2 separate regions of the Homo sapiens genome follow, and region 2 is linked to region 1. Evidence: fine-mapped expression QTL. A gene starts in region 1. The other region holds a variant in brackets. All regions are shown on one strand. Distances are from middle to middle. Region 1 holds the start of CHRNB2 (cholinergic receptor nicotinic beta 2 subunit). Region 2 overlaps KCNN3 (potassium calcium-activated channel subfamily N member 3).

Evidence for each region.
Region 2: its variant is fine-mapped to the expression of CHRNB2 in cerebellar hemisphere (GTEx, PIP 0.99).

The regions. Positions count from the first base shown.
Region 1 is chr1:154,562,357-154,570,814 of GRCh38, forward strand. It overlaps CHRNB2 (cholinergic receptor nicotinic beta 2 subunit), which reads left to right and starts at 5,422. Exons shown (of 6, transcript NM_000748.3): 1 at 5,422-5,752; 2 at 7,106-7,251; 3 at 7,436-7,480; 4 at 7,902-8,011. The coding sequence starts at 5,689. LOC107985206 (a long non-coding RNA gene) reads right to left here and starts at 5,361. Exons shown (of 2, transcript XR_001738238.3): 1 at 5,068-5,361; 2 at 2,432-3,826. RefSeq lists a silencer at 5,593-5,722.
Region 2 is chr1:154,820,598-154,831,099 of GRCh38, forward strand. KCNN3 (potassium calcium-activated channel subfamily N member 3) reads right to left here. Exons shown (of 8, transcript NM_002249.6): 2 at 1,492-1,587. Among named protein-coding and RNA genes, the nearest start is that of KCNN3, 44 kb to the right of the region's middle. The variant G/C (reference allele first, on the strand shown) is at 6,196.

The DNA of each region.
Region 1 (8,458 bases):
AAATTTGCCTAAAAGGGAAAACTGTAGCTGTGAAAAATAGTTATCAAAAATACTTATTGGTATGGAGAGTTGTTTGAGAAATAGTAAATGAAAAAAGATTAGACTGAAGTGAGCTGAAGATTTAAAAAAGAAAGGTGGTTACAAAGCTATGTTACAGTGTGCTCCATTAAAAAAAAAATATGCGATTTAGTTATGTACCCAACAGAAATGCATATACAGTCATGTGTCAGTTAATGGTGGGATACATTCTGAGAAATGTGTCTCAGTGGTTTTTTTGTTGTGTGAACATCATAGTGTACTTACACAAACCTAGATGGTGTAGCCTACTACACACCTAGCCTATAGGGTCTAGACTATGGCTCCTAGGCTACAAACCTGTACTGCATGTTATACTGTAGTGAATACAGTTGCTGCATTCCCCGTGCCCACTAGAATTCCTGCAATTACTGTAGGCAGTTGAAACCCAATAATATGTATTCATGTATCTATCTAAACACAGGAAAGGTACAGCAAAAATACAGTGTTATAATTTTATGGGGGCCACCTTTGTATATTGCAATCTTGTTGACTGAGAAGTCATTACATGGTACATGACTGTATTTGTATACCAAAAGTATGAACAAGAGTGTTCACAGCAGTATTATTTTTTAATAGTCCAAATAGGAAACAACCAAAATATCCATCAATAGTGAAACGGATAAATGATAGTGTATTCATACAATGGAATAGTCCACAGCAATGAAGATGAATGAACTACAACTATATTCAGCAGTGTTCACGATTCTCACTAACATGTTTTTTAAAAAAACAGACACAGGCCGGGCATGGTAGCTCACACATGTAATCCCAGCACTTTGGAAGGCCGAGGCAGGTGGATCACCTGAGGTCAGGAGTTCAAGACCAGCCTGACCAACATGGTGAAACCCCATCTCTACTAAAAATGCAAAAAAATTAGCCGGGTGTGGTGGCACATGCCTGTAATCCAAGCTACTCAGGAGGCTGAGGCAGGAGAATTGCTTGAACCCGGGAGGCGGAGGTTGCAGTGAGCCAAGATCATGCCATTGCACTCCAGCCTGGGCAACAAGAGCAAAACTCCCATCTCAAAACAAACAAACAAACAAAAAAAACCAGACACACACTGAAGATGATGATTCCATTTTTCCATTTATAAAAAGTTCCACAGGCAAAGTCGATCTATGCTATTAGAAGACAGGACAGTAGTTATTTATTTTACCTTCAGTCATTTTTTTAAAATTGTGGTAAAATTACACATAAAATCTGCCACTTTAACTAATTTAAAGTGTATGACTCAGTGGCATTCAGTGCATTCACAAGTTGTATAACCATTACTACTGTCTAGTTCCAGGTAAGTAGTCACCACCTCCCATTCCTCCCTCCTCCCAAGGTGTTTTTTTTTTGAGATGGAGTCTCGCTCTGTCGCCCAGGCTAGAGTGTGCAGTGGTGCGATCTCGGCTCACTGCAAGCTCCACCTCCCGGGTTCACGCCATTCTCCTGCCTCAGCCTCCCGAGTAGCTGGAGCTACAGGTGCCCGCCACGATGCCCGGCTAATTTTTTTTATATTTTTAGTAGAGACGGGGTTTCACTGTGTTAGGATGGTCTCGATCTCCTGACCTTGTGATCCACCCGCCTCAGCCTCCCAAAGTGCTGGGATTACAGGTGTGAGCCATCACGCCTGGCCCCAAGGTGTTACTTTTGAAGAAGAGAGAGTAACTGCTGGAAGGGTCATCATGGGGACTTCTGGATATTAGTTATGTGTGTTTCTTTAAAAAAAAAAATCTAAATTGCGGCTATATGGCTGTGTTTATGTTGTGAAAATTTAGCTGTACACTTGTATATACTTTGCTGTATGAATGTTATATCCGAGTATATATAGATAAATTTGGAGGGGTATGTGTGTGTGTGAAATATATTATTGCTAACACTGATTTTTTTCCTGGGAGGTAGGAGTATGAATCCATTTTGTACTTACTATGTTTTGCTGACTTGTTTTCCAATTGGTATTCATGACGAATACATGTATTACTTTTGTAATAAAAATTTTAAAATTTAAAACATCTTTTTTTTTTTTTTTGAGATGGCGTCTCATTCTGTTGCCCAGGCTGGGAGTGAAGAAGTGGTGCAATCTCGGCTCACTGCAACCTCTGCCTCCCAGGTTCAAGCAATTCTTCCTGCCTCAGTCTCCTGAGTAGCTGGGATTACAGGCATGCGCCACCACACCAGGCTAATTTTTGTATTTTTCAGTAGAGACCGGGTTTCACCACGTTGGCCAGGCTGGTCTTGAATTCCTGATCTCAGGTGATCTGCCTTGGCCTCCCTAAGTGCCAGGATTACAGGTGCGAGCCACCACACTCAGCCTAAAACGCCTTAAATAAAGGACAATAACATTGATTTTAAGCCTTTCCCCCCAACCTTTTTTTTTTTTTTTTTTTTTGAGACAGGGTCTGGCTCTGTTGCCCAGGCTGGAGTTCAGTGACATAGTCTCGGCTCACTGCAACCACCTCCACGGCTCACGATATCCTCCCTCCTCAGCCTCCCAAGTACTGGGAGGTGTTGCCCAGGCTGGGAGCACGTGCCACCACACCTGGCTAATATTTTTAAATTTTTTGTAGAAACAGGGTTTCACCATGTTGCCCAGGCTGATCTTGAACTCTTGAGCTCAGTCCATCCACCTGCCCCAGCCTCCCAAAGTGCTTGGATTACGGACGTGAGCCACCGCTTTCCACCAATTTTAAGCCTTTCAAGAGAAAACATTCCTTATCATCAGTGGCAATGGGAGTGTCTCACCAAAACTTTGCCCAATTACTCTTTAGCCTCAGGATTGATACTTCTGCATCTGTTCATCACCCTCTGTGGTTCTGGACCTGTCCACTCTTCCTGGCTGCCTTTCTTCTTGGTGGGTATGGAAGGAGTATGTGTGGGAGAGATGAGGAAGGAGGTGTTCCCGCCCTGCTTGGACACTGGGTGGTTGTGCTCAGAAGACTCACTCCTTGCCAGGCTGGAAGTAAACTTGAAGCAAAAGCTGGGGGATTTGAGAAGAGAAGGTAGACTGGCCTGGAAGTTGCATCAGGAGAAGCCAGAGGCTTTAAGCAAGCAAATGACCCCCTAGTTTCTCATCCCATAAACAAGCAACCATTACAGAAAGAGATTTTTGTTAAGAGAAGACTTTCACAGCCTTCCTCAATCATTCTGCATCCACCAAAACTCCCTGTATTTCTTAGGAGTTTGGAATACCTTTAAGTCATCCTTGTCTTAATGACTTTCTCACCTTTCAAATCTCAATTTTCATCTTCATCCCTTCTAGGTTCTTAGACACTATTAACCTCTTCTTCCTCTGTGCTTCCATCCATAGCACTTCCTTTATATGTCTGTTAGAACAGCCATCACATTCTATAATAATTTGCTGCCAAACTGTGATCTCCTTAATAGCTGGGACTAAGTCTTTTTGATCACTGCATCTTCAACACATATGGTCCACAACACACATGCAGTTTCCTGGCAAACCACATATACCTAACAAATGTTGATCTAAATTGTTGAAGGAAGATCTTCCCACCCTCTATCTTTTCCTTAAGCAGAGGGACTACACACATTCCTTCTCTTTTCCTTAAGGCTTTTCTTCACTACTTTTCTTTGTTACAAGGTTTCTTTAATTCTTAAGAGATTATTGTGCGCTTACACATGCGCATGCCCCGGAACAAGTCGTGCAGATTTACGCCCATTTCCATGTGCATCATGGGGTCTGTAGTCCTTCTACTTCTCCAGTCCTCTTCTAGAACTTTTCTGCTTCTTCCCTTAATTCCACGACCTGGGGACATGGTCAATAAGTTGCTTTTAGCTGGGCTTTTATTTATTTATTTGTTTAGTTTTTGAAATGGGGTCTTGCTTCATTGCCCAGGCTGGAGTGCAGTTGCGCCATCATGCCCCAAACTGCAGCCCCGACCTCCCTGGCTTAAGTGATCCTCCCACCTCAGCCTCTCGAGTAGCTGGGACTATAGGCACACACCATCATGCCCGACTAATTTTTAAACTTTTTGTACACACGTGATCTCATTATGTTGCCCAGGCTGGTTTCAAACGCCTGGGCTCAAGTGATCCTTCTGCCTCAGCCTTTGAAAGTGCTGAGATTACGGGCTTAAGTCACCTCTCCTGGTCCCTAGCTGAGCTTTTAGAGAGAAATTTTCCCTACACATTAAAAAGTGTCAGTCCAGTACTAGCCCTTTTCCTTACCTGTTGAGCCCTTATAATAATATGCCAGGCACTGTGTTGATTCATAATCTAGAGAGGCAGCCACTGCCTCAGGTGGATTCATTTATTCATTGGACATGCTCTGGAAACATATAACAAAGTATCTGATCTAGTTCTTGGTCAGGCGCAGCTTCCTTAAGGAATTGACATTCCTGCCAAATGCTCAAAGTTAAGTAGAAGGTGATGAGGGGAACATGGGTTATAAAAGAGCCCAAGAGAACCATGCATTTAAGTCCCTGAAGTGTGGGGGATGATGGGACGGATAAGATGTTCAAGGATCCTGAAGACCTTGCCAATAGTTGGAATGTGGAGCTGGGGGTGGAGTGACCCAGATGAGGTTGAAGTAAGCAGGGACAAAACAGGACAGAGCCTTGCTGTATGCTAAGTCTGCTTTAGTCAGGAATCTTTTGGTTGAAAGTGACAACGAACCCACTGAAGGAAAAAAAGGGGCTAAGAGTTCAGGGTTCTCATCTTTGGTCTCCTTTGTGTTAGCTTCTCTCTTGATCAGGCCTCTGTGAGTGGTCTCTGATCTCCCTAGTCACACAGAAGCCAACAGCTGGAGTCAAGAGAAGGGGGTGAGGAAGGCCGATGAATAGGGGCTACTTGTCTTTCCACTATTACCCTCAAGTCTACCTTCTTTGCAGGCAAGTCTAGACCTCCTCAGGTAGACCCTCAGTGGGAGGGCAGGAAGCTTAGCCTTTTAGACTCCAAAGCCGTTTGCTTTCTTAAAAATAGCAAACCCACAGCCCCCTATCTCTTTAAGGGGCTAAACACATTTTCTCTGCTGTATCCTCAGCCTACCTGGGGAGCAGGACCATTTGGGTTTGGTAAGAGAAAAAAGGAGGGCGAAAACCCCGGACACTCCTCCTGTCTCCCGACGCTCGTTCTGGCCGTCTGGCCCTCAGTACTAAGCAGGCCCTGACCTACTTGTCTTACTCTTGCTGCTTCTTCCCGCCGGGCCTCTTGCCCCTTCTCCGACCATGCTGCAGGTCCTGCCCCAACTTTAGGACTTCAGAACTCCTCCACCGTGCCGTGGAGGAACAGCCCTTCTTCCACCTCACGCACACCCTACCACGGCAGAACCAATCGAAGACTATCCCAGCCGGGGACCCCCCTTTTTTTTCCTGGGACCCAGCGTTTCCGCCTCCGGGGCGCAGACTCCTCCCCCTCACCGTCCCAATTGTATTCCCTGGAAGAGCAGCCGGAAAAGCCTCCGCCTGCTCATACCAGGATAGGCAAGAAGCTGGTTTCTCCTCGCAGCCGGCTCCCTGAGGCCCAGGAACCACCGCGGCGGCCGGCACCACCTGGACCCAGCTCCAGGCGGGCGCGGCTTCAGCACCACGGACAGCGCCCCACCCGCGGCCCTCCCCCCGGCGGCGCGCTCCAGCCGGTGTAGGCGAGGCAGCGAGCTATGCCCGCGGCATGGCCCGGCGCTGCGGCCCCGTGGCGCTGCTCCTTGGCTTCGGCCTCCTCCGGCTGTGCTCAGGTAAGGGAAAGACGGGCACTGGCCAGGTTCTCCTACCCCAGCCAACGGCCCAAGACTCGCCGCCCTCTGACTCACCCCTGCTAGGCCGGAAGGTGGAAGAAGGGATTCCCTAGAGGTGGGGGAGTCTGCTGGAGGTTAGGGGAGAGCCCCCCGGGACTGCAGAGAGCACCTGGGAGGCTGGACTGGGAACGAGACATACTCGAAGGAGTAAGTGAAGCAAGAAAGAGATGGAAACCTGGCCAGCGGTGGTAGGGGTGGTGCAGGCACAGAGAGCAAGGAGGCAGGGGATCTCCCCAGGCGTCCTGGGGTGGCAGGAGGCCGGCTCTGAGGGCGCTAAGATGCCATCTGACTTTTTGTGAAACATTATCTCAAGAAAGGTACCTGGACCAGCACCCCTCCCCGGGCTCCCCATCGTTTCCCATCCCCCACATTGGGCTCCAGATTCTCGTCACCCCTCAGGGGCAGAGAAGGGGAGAAAACGGAACGGACTTTTCAACCCTCCTGTAGGGTGGGACAGGAGGCTTGGAAGGGAAGAAGCTCTGCCAGGCTGAGGACTAGGAAGGAACTCTCTGAGGGGATGGGGAGGGGTGTGTTCGTGCAGAGTTGCAGAGGGGGATGCAGTGTGCCGGGGAGGGGCAGGTACAAAGGGAATGCACAACTGAATGAGCTTTCCACACCTACAGGCCACCTCTAGGGGTGGGCTGCTGTGTGTGTGAAACTTGGGGCTACATATATGCCTGACCCACAGCTTAGGCAGCCCAGCTATTCCACTCCAACCCAGTGCCTTTAGGGAGAGGGGAGGATGGCATCGTGACCACAGTCACATGTCATTACGTGAGGCACATAATGTCATTTGCACATGTAAATGGTGAACGGGAACAGTTATTTGTGTCCCACCACACATACACTTTCTCCTCAATCGGCAGGAGAAAGGATGTGTGTGGTGGGACACAAATAACTGGGACAAATAACTGTTCACCTTCACTGCCCTGCTAAACCTCCCTTGAGTCATAGGTATTTGCTGGGGAAGCCATGGAAGCAGAAATCTCAAACTGCCCTCTGAGACTTTGGGGGAAGAGCAGGTCTCCATGAATCCTTGCAGAGTGGGTTCTTAGTCTCAAGTCATCTCTGTGGAGCTGTGTAGACTCTTTGGTCAGTGGTCTCAGAGAGGGGCTTTTCTATGAAGACATTAATCTGGGGCCTCCCTGGGGTTAATCTAAGCATTTTGCAGTATCCTTAGGGATGTAGGGAGATACTGGTTGGGCCTGGATTGTCCCATTTGCCTGGGGAGGGTGGGATGCTGGGTGGGCTCTCCTTGCCTGCTTACTTTCGTCCTGCCTTTCCCCTGCCCAGGGGTGTGGGGTACGGATACAGAGGAGCGGCTGGTGGAGCATCTCCTGGATCCTTCCCGCTACAACAAGCTTATCCGCCCAGCCACCAATGGCTCTGAGCTGGTGACAGTACAGCTTATGGTGTCACTGGCCCAGCTCATCAGTGTGGTGAGTAGAGGTCCCAGGCTCTCTGCCCAGCTACTGAAATCAGCCCCGCCAAAATGTGTTAATGCTTGTGTGCTTCCTCCCCTGGTGTTTCCAAGGCTTGGGGAGGTGTGAGAGGGACCCTGGGTGGTGGCAGTGACCCCACAGGCTTAGGGGCCTTCTCGGCAGCCTCTCTTCCTCCCTGCAGCATGAGCGGGAGCAGATCATGACCACCAATGTCTGGCTGACCCAGGTAAGCGTAAGTGCTCTCTTCCACCCACACCCCTGGCCTTCTCTCTCCTCCTTTTTCCCCATGTGCTTTTTTCTTTCTTAATCTCTCAAAACAGGCAGAAAGGTATAGAGTTTGGAGTCCTAAACAATTGGATTTGAATCTTGGCACTCACCAGCCTTGTGACTTTAAACATATTAAACTCTCCAAGATTCATTTTCTCATTTGTAAATGTAGATTCTAATACTGTACCTTGGCCTAGCTGTGCAAATTAAATGAGAAAGTACCACATGAGCCATACCTGATGGGCAGAGAAGTCACTGTGGGGAAGAGGCTGGCTTTTAAAAGGTCCCTCAAGCCATATGGGCCCCCTCTAGTTCGTTTCCTTAACCTTGAGCCCCACCCAGGGCACAAGTTGGTACTGCCTCCCTCTCTCATTTCCCAGGAGTGGGAAGATTATCGCCTCACCTGGAAGCCTGAAGAGTTTGACAACATGAAGAAAGTTCGGCTCCCTTCCAAACACATCTGGCTCCCAGATGTGGTCCTGTACAACAAGTAGGTGCAATGGGAAGGTTGGGGGAGACCATTGGAGGGCTCAGGGAGGGAAGGGGTTCTGGGGAAAATAAGAGAAATTACTTATGCTGTGGGAGGGGAGGGACTTATAATAGATATGTAGTCACTACCTAGACAGACAGACCCAGACCAGTGAGGTACAGCGTGGACAGCCAAGGTGACCTGGGCAATGACCAGCCCACTCCCAGCCGGTTAGGACTCCCAGTATGTATTTGATGATGTGGTGGGGATACAAACAAGTATTGACAGCCCCCAGCGCCTCAACTGATTCAGGAACAGGCTTTCCTGGAAGCCTGGGAAGGATCAAAGAACTTTAAGGTCCCAGTTTCTCCTCCAGGTTCTATCCTGTCTCCTGCAATAATCCATCTTATCTCTAGGGTACAAAGCCACCTTCCTCAACTGATGGGACCATGCCCTGTCCCCTTCCAT
Region 2 (10,502 bases), 260 kb after region 1:
TGTCTCGATTCCGTGGCCCTAGTCCTCCCTGCCTGTACTCCTGGCTCCTTTCTGGGGCTGACTGGACAATGGTCTGAGTTAAAGTCCACCACTCTGTCCAATTCAGACTCCATGAAGGAAGCTGCCTGGTGGCATCTGGCACAGGCACAGCCCCTGTCCAAGCATCTGCAACCCTTTAGAGGCTGAAGAGTCCCAGCATCCAGGTCAGTATCCTCTAGTCATTGACAGAATGCAGCCCTGCCAAGGTGGCCTGGAGCCAAGGCTTCCATGTCCCAGCCAGCCACAGTGGCCCCTGACCTTCAGACAAAAAGCCAAGGCTCTCTAAGAGGAGGAGGCACTCCCACCTGCGTCCGCACTGCTGCTCCACCCTGAAAATGCCGAGTAACAAATGGGACTGGATTTGAACGGTGTTGTTAAATAGCGCTTCACAAAGCACTCTCCCATGCGCTCCTCATCCCATCCTCACAACAGCTCAGCAGAGCTGGAATAAAGGCCCCATGTTCTAGATGAGAAGATCGAGACCCAGGAAGGTCACAGGGCTGGCCAAAGACACACCAAGAAAAAAGGTCATGGCCGAGACTTGACCCCAGTTTTTCTGACTCTGAGCTCTGGTCTTCGTCAATCTCTCGCCTGCTGCCCAGATGTGAATCTATCTGTGCTCCTCCAGCCAAAGGACCGGGATGGTTTCCAGATTCACATGCACATGAGGAAAAACATCTGGATAGTTTAGAACTTCTCAGGTCCACAGCAGTGCAGGTCAGCCTGAAGGGCCGGGGGCTGGGGGAAGCTCATTGTCACCAGAAGATGCTTCAGATCTGTTCTCTCCTGTCTGACCCTCCTGGCCCGGGTTGAACCATCCTCCCTATGTCAGCCAAACTGGAAGTGCACCCTGGAGGCCCAGCCAATGTTTCTCTGGGTACCAAGTCACTCCTGGGCAGCAAGAAACAGAGGCCTTCTCGGCCACAGCAGACTCTTACTCTGTCTAGAAAATGACACCCCCAGCCTAGACCCACAAGGGTGAAGACCACACCATTCACAAAAAGCAGACTCCTTGGTGGAGTTTGGTGCAGCATATGTGGGGGTACACAAGGCAGGTCTGCCTCACTGAAGGGATGAACTGAGTGGCCCAAGTTCAGAAAGGACAAGAGACACAAAAGGCAGAGCAATGCATCAGGGGCTCTCCCGGTCCGATGGTGCTCAGTGAGGGTCCCGAATACGGCAGCCTCGCTCAACATGAAGCCCTATGTTTGCCTCTGGGATCCCCACTTTGAAGACAACTTAACAGTTATTCGAAAGCCACAGGGCGGCCTCGCAGTTTCCTCTCCCATTTGGGTCCAAACCAGAAGAGAAGAGCCACGATCTTGGGCACCGTCTTGTAAAATCACCCAAGTAGCTGCTAAGGGAGTGGGTTTTGGGGGTGGGGATGGGCTCGGCTCAGAGCAAGGCCAAAGGATCAGCCGCTGCATGAAGGGGTGAGGTGGGGGCACCTACCTGGACTTCACGTGTGTGGTAGGCGATGATCAAGCCCAAAAGGATGATGGTGGACAGACTGATAAGGCATTTCAGGGCCAACGAAAACATGGAGTCCTGCAGGAACAATGGAGAGAGAGAATTAGGGAGTGCGGGGAAAGGAGCGTCTCACTTTATTCTGCGGCTGTGTAAAAGAGAAGGGGTGGGGACACAGGAGGGACTGTTACCAGCCCCTCCTAGGAGCAGGTGTAGCACAAAGTCAGCCTGAGCCCCACAAAAGCCTTGGGCTGTGCCCGGGCCGGCTCTGTCTCAGCAGCTGCCCCCTTTGAGCCTCTGTTTTCTCGGGCTAAGTCGTATTTGCATTCCTGGGATGAACGCTACTTGGGCATGATGTATTATGTTTGTTATACACGGCTAGATTCAGTTTGCTGATGTGTTATTTAGAATTTGTGCTTCCATGCTCATAACTCATATGAACGTCATTCTTTGTTGTGCCGCTATTACATGGTTTGGGCATCAATATTACGCCAGCTTGGGCCTCTGTTTTCTCTTAAACCCAAACCAGAGGATTTCGGAGGCAGAATTCTTTCAGGAATGAATTTGAATGTCCCGGCAGCTGCTCTCATCTCCTGGCTTAGGCCAAGGGCAGGGGAGGGAGGCAGGGACGGCAGAGGAGCTACTGGAGAGAGAAGCCAGGAAGCACAGGAGCAGAGAGGGGTCCTGGCAGGAGAAGTACCCTGATGGTCCCTCCTGCTAGGGATTAGGTGGGGGAGGTGAGCCCCGTGGCCTCCACTGCAGCCTTTCAGTCCCAGGGCAGCTTAGAGAAACCGAGAAGTGTGGTTAAGGGCATGACCTCCGGGGCCAGACTGCTGGGTCCCAGCCCTGCGACAGCCATTTAGGGCTACCTGACCTTGGAACGCCCACTCCACCTCTCTGCACCAGCATGCCTCCTGTGTCAGATGGAGATAATATTCTGGACTACCTCACAGGGCTGTTGTGAAAATAAAGGAGTTAATGTATGCAAAGTGCCCAGAACAGTGCCTGGCCAAGTAAGTGTTAACTACCCTTATCATTTACTTTGCATCCTCTACAAATCAGGGTGTCTGGGTTGGAACTTGGTGCACCTCTGGGCATTTCGAAGCTGGAAGTAGAGATAGCTCCTAGTTCCAAAGGAAGGCGGGAACACAGCCCTGAGCAAAGGCAGCAGATGAGATCCAGGAAGCATTTCCAAGCAGTGACTGTGTGTATGGCGGCCCTGCACTTGGTCCTGAGTGGTGCACGCCACAAAAGAAACATTCCCTTCCTCAGGGAGCTGGTCATTAGAAGAATGATGCCTGATTTCTGGAAGGCACCTTACAGTTTACAAGGTGGTTTCACGTATTTGTTCTCATCCATCCTCACAACAGCCCTCGGCCTTTTACCTTATAGATATTACAGGCTGAGGCCCAGAGGAGGGTGGGTGGCTTGTGCCAGAATTCAAAGTCAAGGCCTCTGACTCGCAGTACAGAGCACTGCCCACAAGCCCTCAGGCACACTCTCCAATGGGAAACAACTTAGAAACATGGGAAGCATCCATTTAAATAGACCTAAATGACATCTTAAGACAACAAGGTAAGGTAGAGTATGATCAATTGCCAGAGTGAAACCTACAGTAGAGCTAGGGGAGCTCAAAGGAGGGAGGCCACTGTGGATGGGTCAGAGACAGCTTTCAGAGGCAGATGTGAGGAGCAGCTGAGATCTGTGGGGTGAGGCGGTATGTCCAATATGGCAACCACAAGAATGAGAGGAGGGCTTGGGACTCGAACCCAGGACTTCCAAGTGCCCAGGTCCATGCTCTCGGCCCCACTCTGTGTGCTGAGATGGAATGAAAGTGCTCTCCCTGATGTCTATTAATCTCCCCATTCATTTAATTGGTACAGTTCTTGAGGCCCACTGGAGATACAAAGAAAACTAATAAAGTAACTAATTCATTCACTCTTTCACAAAAATTTCAACCACTTCTCATTTGCTGAGCACTTGCTAGATATCCAACAGTGTGCTAGATTCTATATATACAGTGATATACACCAGAAGCTTCTGATCTGGCTTATTCACTAACTCTGACTTTCTACATTGCATGGGGTCGTCCAACTATGGGAAAAGGTCTCCATTATTTGCTATGCATAAGATGATCTACACATAAGCCAGTCTTCTTTTAGCCTCTTCATGTTCCACAGTTCCATAAGAGCAGCCTGCAATCATTTACTCAGCACACATGTATGGGGGCCTAAGGAGGGCTGGTGCTGTTCTGGTCCAACATAAGCACAGAGAAGGACAGAACACAGTGCTGGCCCTCAAAAATATTTTGATCTTCACAAGCACTTCCTGGTGCCTGAAATGCTACCCAACCACAAGACCCAGATGGGGCTGAAAAGAGCAAATGGTGAATTCAGGAACACTCAGACTGTATTAGGGTAAAACAAACCTCCCTACATCAATCAACTGGGGATCAACTGGGGACAGCTCACAATGTTTTCCATCCAGAAATGACCATAACTTTCTTTTCAAAGGGGTCTGAAAGCATCTGGGAGCATCACACCTCCCCGGGAAGGATTTGGGATCAGCTGCACATTTCAGCCCCTTATTTATTTCTTTTGGCAGCAATGAATTGACATCAGAATCCAAGTCTATTTCCATCATTTTAAAGGAAGCAGTGAAGGGAAAGGGGCCAGATGCTCTCTCCTTTGGGCCTCTTCCTTTTGTCCTAAAGCTCAAAACCTTTACATGAACAGGCAACTCCCACCTGCTTCTTGGTTTTGGCCAGTACAACCTCCCTGGCCAGCTCCAGCCCTGTGGGATGACCAAGCTGTGTGCTGGATCAACAGGGACTCTCGATATCTTACAGATTTCTTTGCATTCTCCATCGCATGTCAATAAAAAAAATTAACCAACCGCTTTTAATAGCTGGAAAACATGTCAAAGAAGTCTGGCTGAACTAGGAATGTTTTCTATTTGGTAAAATGTTGAATTAGCATCTTCTCTTTGCTGCCTGAACATCAGTGAAGCTTGAAATTGATATGGTTCCTTGGGGGATGGCAGTGACACCGGGCTGCCATACATCCCAGGATAGGGTACCTGCCACACGCATTGCCCCCACTCACTCCTATCTGAGGACCAATAAGGGGCTTGTAGAACAGAGGGAATCCAGCGGTCAACTGGTCAACCCTTCTGCCCCGTGACTCAGAACTTTTCAACACAGAGTAACAATCCTTAACACACAGGAATGCTTAGGAATTATATCCCATTTGATGAGAATCATTTTTTTTTTTTTTTTTTTGAGACAGAGTCTTGCTCTGTCTCCCAGACTGGAGTGCAGTGGCACGATCTCAGCTCACTGCAAGCTCTGCCTGCCGGGTTCATGCCATTCTCCTGCCTCAGTCTCCCCAGCAGCTGGGACTACAGGCGCCCGCCACTACACCCGGCTAATTTTTTTGTATTTTTAGTAGAGATGGGGTTTCACCGTGTTAGCCAGGATGGTCTCGATCTCCTGGCCTCAAGTGATCCACCCGCCTCGGCCTCCCAAAGTGCTGGGATTACAGGCGTGAGCCACCGCGCCCAGCTGAGAGTCATGTTTTAAAGTCATTTATTCCTAAATGCCCACAAATTTTCAAGTGGTTAAGTAGATTTGAGATCAGGCAGTGATGGAACACTACGCAGCCACTAAAAACACTTCTGCACACGGCCGTAATCCCAGCACTTTGGGAGGCCGAGGTGGGCAGATCACGAGGTCAGGAGATCGAGACCATCCTGGCTAACACAGTGAAACCTCATCTCTACTAAAAACACAAAAAATTAGCGGGACGTGGTGGCAGGCGCCTGTAGTCCCAGCTACTCGGGAGACTGAGGCAGGAGAACGGCATGAACCCGGGAGGCGGAGCTTGCAGTGAGCCGAGACAGTGCCACTGCACTCCAGCCTGGGTGAAGAGCGAGACTCCATCTTAAAAAAAAACAAAAACAAAAACAAAAACAAAAACAAAAACAAAAAAAACCAAAAAACACTTCTGCAGACAATATCTGAAGACATGGAGAATGGTTGATGATAGACTATTAAGTGATAAACTCAGACCCCAAAACGATATGTAGTATATTTCCAATTATTTCATTTTTAAGCTTTTTTAGTGTAGAAAAAGACTGAAAATATGTCAATAGAATTCCTAAGAGCTGCCTCCATCCATGTGGTCCCTGTTCTGCTCCAGGCCACGAGCCAGCCCTTCACAGATCTGTGATTTCTCATTGATGACAATAATCTGTAATAAAGCACATCTATAGGGGCCTACCATGCAAGGATGGCATTGTCAACCCACTCTTACAGAGGAGAAAGCTTAAGCTCTCAGAAGTTAGGTAACTTGTCCAAGGGCATGTTACCTAACTTCTCACCATGGCAAAGCCAGGATTTGCAAAAGCCAGGTTTTACACCCAGATCTGTCTGCCTCCAGGTTCCATTGCCCCGCCTGTGTCCCAGCACCCCACCTGCTCTGGCGGCCACGCCTTGCTGGCCCTCCAATATCTGCAGCGAGGCTTCTTAGAGCTGTTCCAGCCTTTCCTCCCCTGAGGCTGTGCAGAGGGTGATGGAGTGTGTTCCCCAGCTTCTGAGCCAGCCACATAAATTGCTCTCCTGGCCTGCCTTGTAGCTTCCAAAAACAGGCCAGAACTGTAATGATTATGGTATATCTTCCCAGAGACTTT[G/C]AAGTTCTAAATGTATTTTATTGTTTGGGTCATCGCAAAAAGGAGAAAGCTATGCTTACAGACAGAGACCTGGAGGGGCACTGAACCAAACTGAAATATTAGCTTAACTGAGATAATGATGCGCAGGCTCCTTCCCCAACCAAGCTGTTACCCACAAAGAGTATATGTGTATGGTTGTGTGTGTGTGTGTTTATACACATATGTGGTCCATTCACGATTTCTGTCACTGGCTGAAACCCCCAAAGGGAAAAGGTGATAGTATCTGAAGTTCATAATTTCTGAATTAAGGTCTGATGTGCCTGCCTGACATCACTATGTTTTGTGCATTCAATCTGGGAAATAATTGATTTAGAAATCTTTTCTATCTAATAAGGTCAACTTTTCCTTCAATTTCATGGAGAGGCTCCAAAATTGATTGATATTCAACATCGGCTTATGACTGTGGTTCTGTAATGGTTGTCCTAATTAGATACTCTTGCTAATTAATGCTATGCAAATTAAACCAGCCCCTCTTCCGCTAAAGGGAAGACCGCATCACTGGTCGCTGTTCTCCATGGAGACCTGAGGCTTCTTTCCCTCCACATCAGCACCAAGCCCTGGCCTTCCTCATTCCTCAATCTCACACTGTCCAGTTCTTGGGATCTTTCATTCTTACCCATCATCCTCAGCTCCTATCTTAGCACAGCCTCCTCCTCCCAGGTGCAGCACCCTAATTTAATTGCAAGCCCAGGCGTGGTGGCTCACGCCTGTAAGTCCAACACTTTGGGAGGCCAAGGCAGGTGGATCACTTGAGGTCGGGAGCTCAAGACCGGCCTGGCCATCATGGTGAAACCCCATCTCTACTAAAAATACAAAAATTAGCTGGGCATGGTGGTGCAAGCCTGTAGTCTCAGCTTCTCAGGAGGCTGAGGCAGGAGAATGGCTTGAACCCAGGAGGCAGAAGTTGCAGTGAACCGAGATCACACCACTGCACTCCAGCCTGGGAGACAGAGCAAGACTCTGTCTCAATAATAATAATAATAATAACAACAACAATAATAATAATAATTGCAGCTGTTGGCCCTCCCAGCATCCTCAGAGCGGCTTCCCAACCTGGCTCCTACCAGAAGTCAGCTAACAGAATCCTGTTTCAGTCACTAATGAATGAAGTGACAGAATGAAGTCACTCAGACCCTCTCTCTCCCAGGACTGTCCAACCTGAGACCGGGAGAGACAGCCGATGCTGTCACAGTGGGAAGGGAGACTCTGGGGACTCCAGAGGGCAGCTGGACCTCTGACCAGCCTGAGAAGGGAGAAGGGCCTGATACTTGCTAGCCAAGACAGCTCTGGAACAGAGGCCCAGGGTGTGCATCCGAGGGCGCAGGAGTCTCAGCCTCCTCCATAGTGAATGCCTGGCCTGGACAAGTTGCTTCCTTCTCCTAAGCCTCAGCCCCCAGTAAAATGAGACTCCTGGACAGAACCTTCTCCGAAGTTCAGTTAAGCCTGATGACCAAGGCGCCGAGCACACATGCCATGACAAACAGGTCATAGGGACATGTCCAACACTCATTCCTTTTTTTTTTTTTCTTAGGAGTTTTCTTTTCCCAGGCATTTCTGTGATGAAATGTTGGGTGTGAAACGGTCAGCCACAAAACCCACTCACACCATCTTCTCCTCAAACACAACAAGGCAAGCTTCCTATTTTTAGTCATGGGGGGGCTAACGAAGATGTTCCTTGTCTCTTTCTAAATAACATAGGATTTGAAACCAAAAGGCCAGAGTTCAAGTCATGTCTTTGCTACTAACTAGCTGTGTGACACTGGATCGGTCCTTTAACCTCTCTGGGCCTCTGGTTTCTTCTCTGCAAACAAGAACTACCCTTACTTTTCTCACAGCTGTTAGGGGATGAGATGAGATCATGCATACGAAAAATCTCATTCTGTTTTCACACAAAGAGAAGCATGCATTCCCTTGTAGTCAAACACCCCTTCTCTTGCCATACAGATGTCAGTGCAGGTAAATGCAGCTGATCCTCAGTCCGGAGCTGCTCACTGCACCCCCAATATCAGCATTTTATGGCTGCAATAATTTATAAAGATATCCCTGAGGCATTTCAGAAAGACACCTTTGCAATCCGCATAGCCAAACATTCATTCACTTGTGCATTCATACAACATATATTCACTGAGCACTTACCATGCCCAGGCACTGTGCTGGGCAATTGCCAAATGCCAGGGATTCCCCACCCGCTCCAACCCCAACCTGCTGAGCCTGAATCCCATCCAGGAGCTCCCAGGAGCTCATCCCAAGGGCTGCCCTCTGCACCATCATCGCCCCGTCACCTTGACATCCCATCCTGTCCCTCTTGGACACTCTCCCTGGCCTCTCTGTCCTGCCCACAGTGCAAGGTCAAGAAGAGATGGGCCAAGGGTCAGGTCAGGGGGCCCTGGAGGACACATCAGGCTGGGACAGCCAGGAATGGGCAGGAAGCCCAGGCTGAGGGAGAAAACCCACAAGTGGTTCCTTTGCGCTCGAGTGACCAGCTCTCTCCACGGCAGAGCTCAAGAATGGATATTAGAGGCCAAGCTCCAGGAACCTTTCCTGCCTGCCTGAGCCCACTGTGTGGGTGAGGACATCTTTACCACAGGTCCCAGGGGCTGGAGATGGGGCTAAACCTCACTGCCACCTTTTCTCCAGCCCAGTCACCTTCTTACATGAAGCTTCTGTTCTGGGCCCACCCCTCAACCCCACAGCCAGGGGATGCTTGAGGTGGATCCCCAGTGGGCGGAAAGCTGAGACAAGACCATCCACACTCTCCTCTCAGTCCCAGGAGCCAGCCAGGCATCATGAGCCAGCTGACCCGCATCAGGATGCGGGGTCTGACCTAGACCCGAGAGCAGGTGGCTCCTCAGAGCCCTGTCTTCAGTCCTCCTGTGCCCTCCTCAGCCCCCATCCCTGAACGGGGTCCATATACCCACCATCGAAGCTGGGAGCCATTACCTGCTTTAATAGTACACAGGGTAACCTCAGCACCAGGAACCCCGCTGGTCTGCCCTGGGCCCCACACCCTTCCCGAGGCTGGCCATGCCTGGTGTCTCCCATTGGCACTGCCCAGCTGGGGTGACCAGAGCACCTTTCACCATCTGACCCCATTTTCCCACTGATGTTGTTCTCACACCCCCACCAGAGTGTCAACCCCAGAGGGCAGGGAATTTTTACATTGCATTTGTTCACTCCTAGAGCCCCATGCCTAGAACACTGGTCTGGCACATAGTAAGTCAATAAATATTAGTTGAACGTTGAATATTTGAAGGAAGGGAGCAAAATTTTTGAGATATGTCAAGCAGGTAGACACTTCCATCCTGAATTTCCAAATTCATCAAAACTAAAGAGAGGTGATGAAAGTAACAGCTAACATTTATTATTCACTTACCAGAGGCCAGGTACTGTGCTAATTTCGTTAGGTCCTCAGAACAACCCATGGCCCCATTCTAGAGATGAGGGATCTGAAGCCTGGAGAGGGTCACATTCCCACCGTCCCTGGATGAGGAAGAGGTGGGGGCTAGATTCAAACCTGTGCTCTCACCACTGATCCAGAGGGAACCTCAGGAAGACAGGATGGCAATTGCCAGAACATCACCCTTGCAGGCCCTGCCCTTACCGGTCCCACCTGCTCTCTGAAGAAGCCCCCAGTTGTGTGGCTTTAGTGGTGTGATAGATGGTGAACAGACTGAGCTCAGGGCTTGGGGTCTTCACCGTCTCTGCAGACTGGGCCCGGCACGGGGAAACTAGGCAGATAATACTTGTGGCGTGAAGGAAGCCAGTGGTCTCGACACAAAACTCATAAAGTCAAGTTGCCCTGGAGCATTTCCCTGGATCTCTACGTTGCCACTCCCAGAAGGAGACGGAACCTGATGTCTGAGGGACATCATGCAGTTAATAACAAGGGCATTCAGGTCTGAGCAGAGGGTGGCCTACTAATTTTTAGTGAAGCCAGCATGATGACCAGGACACCAATTAAGAGAAAATGATCCTCCCCAGGCCCTGGCTCTCCCATTGTGTGATGTCCCAAGGAAGGCAGAAAAAGGTCATTTAGGAGACCACGCTCCCAAAATATCAAGTCAGACGGGGCACCCCTTCAGGCCACAAACATAATTCCAATTAAGGAGATGGTTTCCTTTATAAGGTCTGGGCAGAGGGGAACTGGCATATCATGAATTCTCTACTGCATGCTTGCTTATAATTTATTTTCCTGCCCCACTTACAATATTGGCAAAGATTCCATGCGATTCAATCAAACTTTTTATTACATGTTTGCCATGTGCCAG